2 linked regions of the Homo sapiens genome follow. The protein of the gene in region 1 purifies or fractionates together with the protein of each later gene. This does not show direct contact. Each region holds a gene or a part of one and is shown in the gene's direction. Other genes may lie near its edges.

The links. Proteins that work in one complex are often made in the same cells at the same time.
Region 2: the proteins of COL12A1 (region 1) and SPARC purify together in Homo sapiens (co-immunoprecipitation; one large-scale study listed by IntAct). This does not show direct contact.

The regions. Positions count from the first base shown.
Region 1 is NC_000006.12:75,119,054-75,122,553, reverse strand, and holds part of COL12A1 (collagen alpha-1(XII) chain long), read left to right. Parts: intron 1-1,112; coding exon 1,113-1,252; intron 1,253-3,080; coding exon 3,081-3,204; intron 3,205-3,367; coding exon 3,368-3,500. UniProt on the Homo sapiens protein: Type XII collagen interacts with type I collagen-containing fibrils, the COL1 domain could be associated with the surface of the fibrils, and the COL2 and NC3 domains may be localized in the perifibrillar matrix.
Region 2 is NC_000005.10:151,684,116-151,688,295, reverse strand, and holds the start of SPARC (SPARC isoform 1 precursor), read left to right. Parts: upstream 1-1,380; 5' UTR 1,381-1,431; exon of another isoform or gene 1,432-1,914; intron 1,915-2,344; exon of another isoform or gene 2,345-2,467; intron 2,468-4,180.

The DNA.
Region 1 (3,500 bases):
ATAATCTTGGTTTAAAAACAAGTTTTTTCTTTTTAAATAGGCTTTATTTTCTAGAGTAGTTTTAGGTTCATAGCAACATTGCAGGGATGATGCAGAGATTTTTCATCTCCCAGACAGACTGCCCTTCCCCACACATGCCCAGCCTCCTCCACTATTAACATCCCACATCTGAGTGGTACGTTTGTTACAACCGATGAACCTACATTGACACATCATCACCACCCAAAGTCCACAGTTTGCGTTAGGGTTCACTCTTGGTGTTATACTTCTATATGCTAAGTTTTTATAAACTAAAATTTTGTTAATTGTTTTTGGAATTTTTTCTTAGCCTCTAAGTCTAGATATTCCAATAAAAATCTTCTCCTTTCCTGCATATGATTCTAGTGGCTTAATTTAAATTTTACAAAGGACTTGGCCAGGTGCGGTGGCTCACGCCTGTAATCCCAGCACTTTGGGAGGCCGGGACAGGTGGATCGAGACCATCATGGCCAACATGGTTAAACCCGTCTCTGCTAAAAATAGAGAAATTAGCTGGGCGTGGTGGCACATGCCTGTAGTCCCAGCTACTCAGGAGGCTGAGGCAGGAGAATCACTTGAACCTGGGAGGTGGAGTTTGCAGTGAGCCAAGATCATCACACCACTGCACTCCAGCCTGAAGACAGAGCAAGACCCTGTCTAAAAAAAAAAAAAAAAAAGGACTTATTTGCATAAAGTCAATCTTTAATAATTACATTTCAAATCTCCAAACTTTTTATTTGATTTCTCCTCTCATTTATTGTTCAAAACTACTTGAAGAGTTCCATTAAGTAAGATTGTATCTTTGCATAATGGATCTAAACAAATGGAGTAATTCCAGAGCAGGTATTGAGGGTCCCCGCAATGCTTCTTAAATTTATTGTGCATGTGAGTCATCTTATTACTGCTGGTACTGATTCAGGAAGTCTGGGGTAGGACCCAAGATTCTGCATTTCTAACAAGCTCCCAGGCAGTGCTGTTGCTGCAGAACCACACTTTGCGTAGCAAGGTGTTATATTGCATTTTCAATTATGTGATTTCATTTAAATGAAAGAATTCATGAGATTTGGGGCTTCCTCTGCTTTCTTTTTTTGCAGTATGCAAAGGGGCCAAGGCAGATATTGTGTTCTTGACTGATGCCTCCTGGAGCATTGGGGACGATAATTTTAACAAAGTTGTAAAATTCATCTTCAATACTGTGGGAGGCTTTGATGAAATCAGTCCTGCTGGGATTCAGGTTAGTGTCATTCCGCCAGTGGCTACTCATTTGTGATGTCTTGCCTTTCCTTTGAACTTCTCTTTTTAAGTAAAAAGTCTTTTCAATATAAACTCTGTTTTGACCTTCTCCTATTTGCTATTTCTTTTATTCATGTATTTTTGGGAGGGAATTGGGTATAAATGATAAATCAATAGAAAAATAAATGTTCCCTTAGTTTTTATCTTTGGCTAGATAATATTCCTGTTGGAGAACTTAGGGGATTCTAAGGGACTCTAACTTCCTGCTTAAAACTTCCAATCATGACACATTTCTATAGAAGTTCATCCAAAGTTCTGGATATTAAATTCTTTGTGATTGTCATCCCCTGTGAAGTTAGAAGAATCAGTGATAAACAGTGACTGGAGTGGGTGTGTGGAACTTGCTGCCTCTATCATTACTTTGCAGATAATTACCTTGACCAGAAGAAGGTCCATTGTTGAGCTAAAGCGTATTTCATTTGTTTTTTTAAAAGGATAACTACCAATTATCTTGCTCTGAAATCACTCCAAATATATTTGTTATACTGAAGTACTTAGAGAAGTTTATATTTCCATGAGGGAGGGGCCTCAAAGAATAAATCATCATGTAACCCTAACACAGTTAAAAGACCCAATTAAAATTTCACCCCCTCTGGTGAGGTTCCATGATGGCTTTACCCATTCCATGCTTTTGAATTATTTTGTCTATATTGCTGCATTACAACAAATATCACTTCATATTGTCATTAATTGTGTGACTCTGTTCTGTCTAATCTTCTATCTAAATCATTGACTCCTTAAAGCAGAAGACTATCTTTTTAAAAAACAATTCTCTCCTTTTCTTTCCCATTTCTTTGGTGAATTTTCTTCTTTATTTTGGCAGTTTGATCATCATTGTGGCATTATGAAAATAAGCTATTTTGAAATAAACCACAAACAATTTCATCAACAAAACTTGTCCTCTTTTATGGAATAGTAGTATACTAAATTTCAAATCCTCAAATAATCCTCTGGACATTGATCCAACCCAAGAAGAGTAAAAATTCACCCTAGTTATATTCTTAATTTAATGTGGTTATATTCTTAATTTAACCACATTAATTCAACTAGCAAGCTTTTTTCATCCTTTTAGGAATTTGTATTTCTAAAAAAAATACTGATCATATTTTATTAACATCTATGTACCAGTTACTTTGTATACAGGATTATTAGTCTTTAAAACAATCCTAGAAGGTAAGTATAGTTATCCTCATTTTACTGATAAAAAAAATCCATTGTCACATAGCTATTAAATGCCAGAGCTAGGATTTGAACCCAGCGATTCCTGAGTACAAAGTCTGTACTTTTTCCACTAAATCCCATTTTCAATGAGGTTGTGATGAGGGATGATTATAATCACACATGTGACATTTCTGTATTGCCATAAAGAACGGATATAGTCAGTGGGAAGTAGCAGTTGGCTGAGTCAACTGTTTAACCAACATTTGGATTCGAGATGGTATGTTCTCATGTCTAATCCTGGGATCTCACCACTCCCCACCTTTATTCATCCCTTTCTATGTCCTAGAGAAAGGCACAACGTGAATATAGTATATTTTCATTATTAATGCCAATTATGACAATTTCATTGAAGATTGAAAATTAACGAATTTAATGAGACAAGTGCAGTAGATGTTGTAATATTAGCTATAAAGAGCTTACAATATTCTATCAGGTCTGAGATACTTTTTACACCCCCACCGCTTTATTCCGCAGCTAGAGAATCATTTGAAGATTGAAACATAAAATGAGATGACTTATGCTCACTGCCAAATCACATTTTCCTTCAGGTTTCATTTGTGCAATACAGCGATGAGGTCAAGTCTGAGTTCAAGCTGAACACGTACAATGACAAGGCCCTAGCCCTTGGGGCCCTCCAGAATATTAGGTACAGAGGAGGAAACACAAGAACAGGTATGTGTATATGTAGACCTTTACTCTTCAAGCATTTGTAGTGGCAGAACTGAGTGTATTATCTCATGCTGATATCCAGATTCTTATCAGTTGGGTGTGACTAATGGCATTTGGGTAGTTTTCACTGAAGTGACACTAAAATTTTCCATGCCACATTCTGTAGGCAAGGCCCTCACGTTTATCAAGGAGAAAGTCTTGACTTGGGAGAGCGGCATGAGGAAGAATGTCCCTAAGGTGTTGGTTGTGGTCACGGACGGTCGGTCCCAGGATGAGGTCAAGAAGGCGGCTTTGGTCAT
Region 2 (4,180 bases), on another chromosome or scaffold:
CTTAACTCGTCTAAAAAAATTAAAAAAGAATTTAAGAAACCACAAAGCTAAGCTGGGTGCGGTGGCTCACGCCTGTAATCCTAGCACTTTGGGAAGCCAAGGCATTCGGATTGCCCAAGCTCAGGAGTTCGAGACCAGCCTGGGCAACATGTTGAAACCCCATTTCTACTAAAAATACAATAAATTAGCTGGGTGTTGTGGCATGTGCGCCTGTAATCCCAGCTACTCTGGAGGCTGAGGCGCGATAATTGCTTGAACCCGGGAGGCAGAGGTTGCAGTGAGCCGAAATCATACCACTGCACTCCAGCCTGGGCGACAGAGTGAGTGAGACTCTGTCTCAAAACAAAACAAAACAAACAAACAAAAAAACCGGAAACCACAAAACTTTTTGAGGACAAGGACCAGGTATTTATTAATTCTCATACCTCCCAGAGTGTTAGGCACAAAATAAACATTCAACCAAGACCTGTTGCACTGAGCAGTTCATATATAACAGGAGTGACCCAAGTTGAAACGTAGAATCAGCCCTCTCATACCACTTTTTGCCAGGTGATCATAGGCAAGTTACTTAGCATCTATGTTTCCTTATTATTAAAATGGTCATAATTACAATGCCTAAGATAAGGGGTTGCTGTGAAGATTATTAAATCCTCAGTAAACTTTGGCTATTGTTACTCCTATGATTATCATCAATATCATCAATTACCTTATCTGTTCAATACTGGTGGCACAGGTCCACCAGCTAGATGTCTAATCCCTTATGTGTCTATTAGTGGTACAAGTGGAGTTTGAGTGGGATTTTTTTTTTTAAGACCAGTTCCAAATCATCAAGGATGATACCACTAGTAGCAGCTTGTCTTGTCTGTACAGTGGTAAGTCCTGGCCTTGCCTTTGTGGCAAATACAACCCCCTTGAATTGCTTGGCCCTTCTCAGCATTGCCTAATATTAGGGAGGACTCCTGTAAAGCTCACTGGTTAGAAGATCAAGACACTTGGGCCTGGTTCTGCCCCTGGGGGCCATTGGGTAATTCCTTGCAGTCTCCAGGCCTCACTTGCCCTCTGAACAAGAAAGAGGCTGTTCTGGGTCATCCCTCCAGGCCTGTCCAGCCCTGGCACTCTGTGAGTCGGTTTAGGCAGCAGCCCCGGAACAGATGAGGCAGGCAGGGTTGGGACGTTTGGTCAGGACAGCCCACCGCAAAAAGAGGAGGAAAGAAATGAAAGACAGAGACAGCTTTGGCTATGGGAGAAGGAGGAGGCCGGGGGAAGGAGGAGACAGGAGGAGGAGGGACCACGGGGTGGAGGGGAGATAGACCCAGCCCAGAGCTCTGAGTGGTTTCCTGTTGCCTGTCTCTAAACCCCTCCACATTCCCGCGGTCCTTCAGACTGCCCGGAGAGCGCGCTCTGCCTGCCGCCTGCCTGCCTGCCACTGAGGTATGTGTGACCCCCGCCCAGCCTTTCCCTTCTATAGTTGCACCAACCCCGACACCCCCGTTCACGCCGTCAGCTCGTGTGCAAGGGAGGGAAGCTCTGCTGAGGATGCGCCTCTCCTCCCGGCTCCATCACGGCTCCCCTTAAGAGCATGGCCCTCGGTCCTGTCTGCCTGTTGCTTTTCAGAAGGTGGACTCACTGTGTAACTTTGTCTTCCCTTACAGGTTTACAGAAAATAATCTCACTATGTCTTCGGGGGAGCATTTTCTCACTCTCTGTTTTTCTCTGTGTCTGTCTCTGGTTTCAGAGGCTGCCTGCCTGTCCTCTTTGCTCCCTTTGCAAATGTGGCAGCCTCCTCCTTTCCTGGGAATCTGATCCCATCACAGCTGCCACAGGGACCTGGCCAGCAACCGGAGTCTGTCCTCCAGATCTCGGTCAGGGGTTCTGTTTTCCAAAAGGGACTTTGCACGAACAATCAGTTGATCTCTGAAAGGCAAAGGGGGAGGCTTCACCATTAATCCACACCTCTGGGAAGCCTTCTGTTTTCCTCTAATTCTCCTCACTCCCAAACACCACCTTCCGTCCCCCCAATACACAAATTTCAGCACCATTCTGCCTGAAATGGCACCATCACAACCTCAGTCTTGGGTTAGGTGTTGTTCCTGTCCTGAGTTCCTTGGGATGGTAAACACAGGCAGTAGCCCTTAGTTTATCTAGATCTGAAAACCCAGACATCAGATATCGTCAACCAAGACATGGGTGTAATGGGAGGTGGAGTGTGCTGGGGGAGATATTCTCAGAAGGGGGAAAGGGGGAAGGGAAGAGGGAGAGAATTCCAGGGTCCCCTTCCGTAATCCACCCAAGACTAGTGTCCAGCCTGTCAGGGTGTCAGTTCTTCTTCAGACAAATCCACTACCTTTCTTCGCCGCCACTGGCTCCGTGAACTGGCTGTCAAGTGGACTTCCTTAGGGAAAGGGACTCCAAGGACTCCAAGGGAAGGGGGGCACTGGGATGAGTTATGTCTTCCAGGATTCCCAGTCTGCCCAAAAGGGAACAGAGAGGCATGCATTTTCCTCAGGAAAGGACAGCATTTTTTTCATTAGAGAAAATGTTTTCTCTAGTAATGCTTTAGAGTTAAATTTCTATACGCCCCAAGTGCTGGTGGTTTAGTGAGAAGCAAAGCAGAAGTAGGACACAGGCTTCGGGCATGCATTTTATGTGTGATCTTAGGTAAGTGTCTCCCCTGGATTTAGTGCCCCATCTGTAATGAAAGAAGGCTGAAACTGAAGGCTCTTTGGGGTGCTTTGTGTCCTCTAAAATATTCAAAGGAAGATTTCTTAACCAGGGTCTATGGAGTGGTCTTTGAATGGGCCTCAAGCCATCTCTAAGCCCCTAAAAATTGTATGCACTGTGTGTGTGTGTGTGTGTGTGTGTGTGTGTGTGTGAGAGAGAGAGGGAGAGAGAGAGAGAGAGAGGATGAATATGGGTGGTCACAGCTTTCAGCTTTAAGATATTCTCAAATGGATTAGAGGGCATGACGTGGGGATGGAGTGAGGACTGGTAACAAATGTGTGTATTTGCTGGAGGATGAAGCCTTCTGAAAAGGGAGTGGTTGAGGAAAGAGAGAGTTAACTCTCAGCTATCAGCTGCCACATCGACATAGCCTAGAGCAAAGAGGGGGAGGGAGGAGAAGAAGGGGGTTGCCTGGAGAAGGAATCAACTTTTGAAACTTTCTCCAAGTCCCACCCACCAGAAGGCTCTTCTCTGCCTGACTCACTCTCCGAGGAATGCGAGTTGCCACGGTAACCTTTTTTTCAGGGTCTCTGCCTGCTGGCTGGAGGGGACCCTTGAAACCCTCTAAGAACATCAGTCTGAACGTACCCCACCCCCAAATTCAAGGCCTGCAGCAAATTCTAGGCCCTGCCCTTGTGATCTCTCAGGATTCCGGGGAAGCCTTGGGCCATGATAATCTCCTTGCAAGGGTGTTTGAAGACCTGGGTTTTAGCTCTGGCTGTGCCCTGAAGGTACCATTTGACCTTGAACTAATACTTCTTTCTGGGCCCCATTCCCTCTACAGTTAAAGAACAGTAACAGCAGCCACCTCTAGGGGGTAGATAGTGTGTAGAAGAAATGGGATAATGCACAGGGAAGCACTTTGCGAATTGTGGCATTCCCTCATAATGCAAAGGGTTTTAGAACTGATGGATTAAAGGCATCCAAAGACCTAGTGAAATCATTCTCAGCTTTTTTTTTTTTTTTTTTTCCTGGCAGCTCCATCATCTTGGGGTTTGTATAGAACTTTCCTTTACTAGAAGTACTGACAGGAAAAATTTTAAAATCATAATATTGTTTATCTTCATTTTGATTTGGGGAACTTCTTGTGTATTTCCCAAGACTGTTGTGCCCTCTATGTAGGAAAAGCATTGGCCAAGGGTGAAAAAAAAAAAAAAAAGTGTGTTCTAACTCCCAGTGCCTGACATTGGGAAAGACACTTCCTCTCTTGAGGCTGCAGTTTCCCAAACTGTTAAATAGAGTTTCTAAGCTAGATGATTTCCCAGGCACCCTTCTAACTCTGAAGTCCTATAAACCTAAATCCCAGATACCGCTTTTATTCAAAGGAATAGCTTGCCTGCATTTTTAACACCGCCTTACTGCACCCCCAGTTGAAAAGAAAACAAGAAAAGATGGGCTAGGGGATCTTGAGTTGCATAACCATCATGCTGTAATCCTTATCCATCTGTAGAGATTTGTC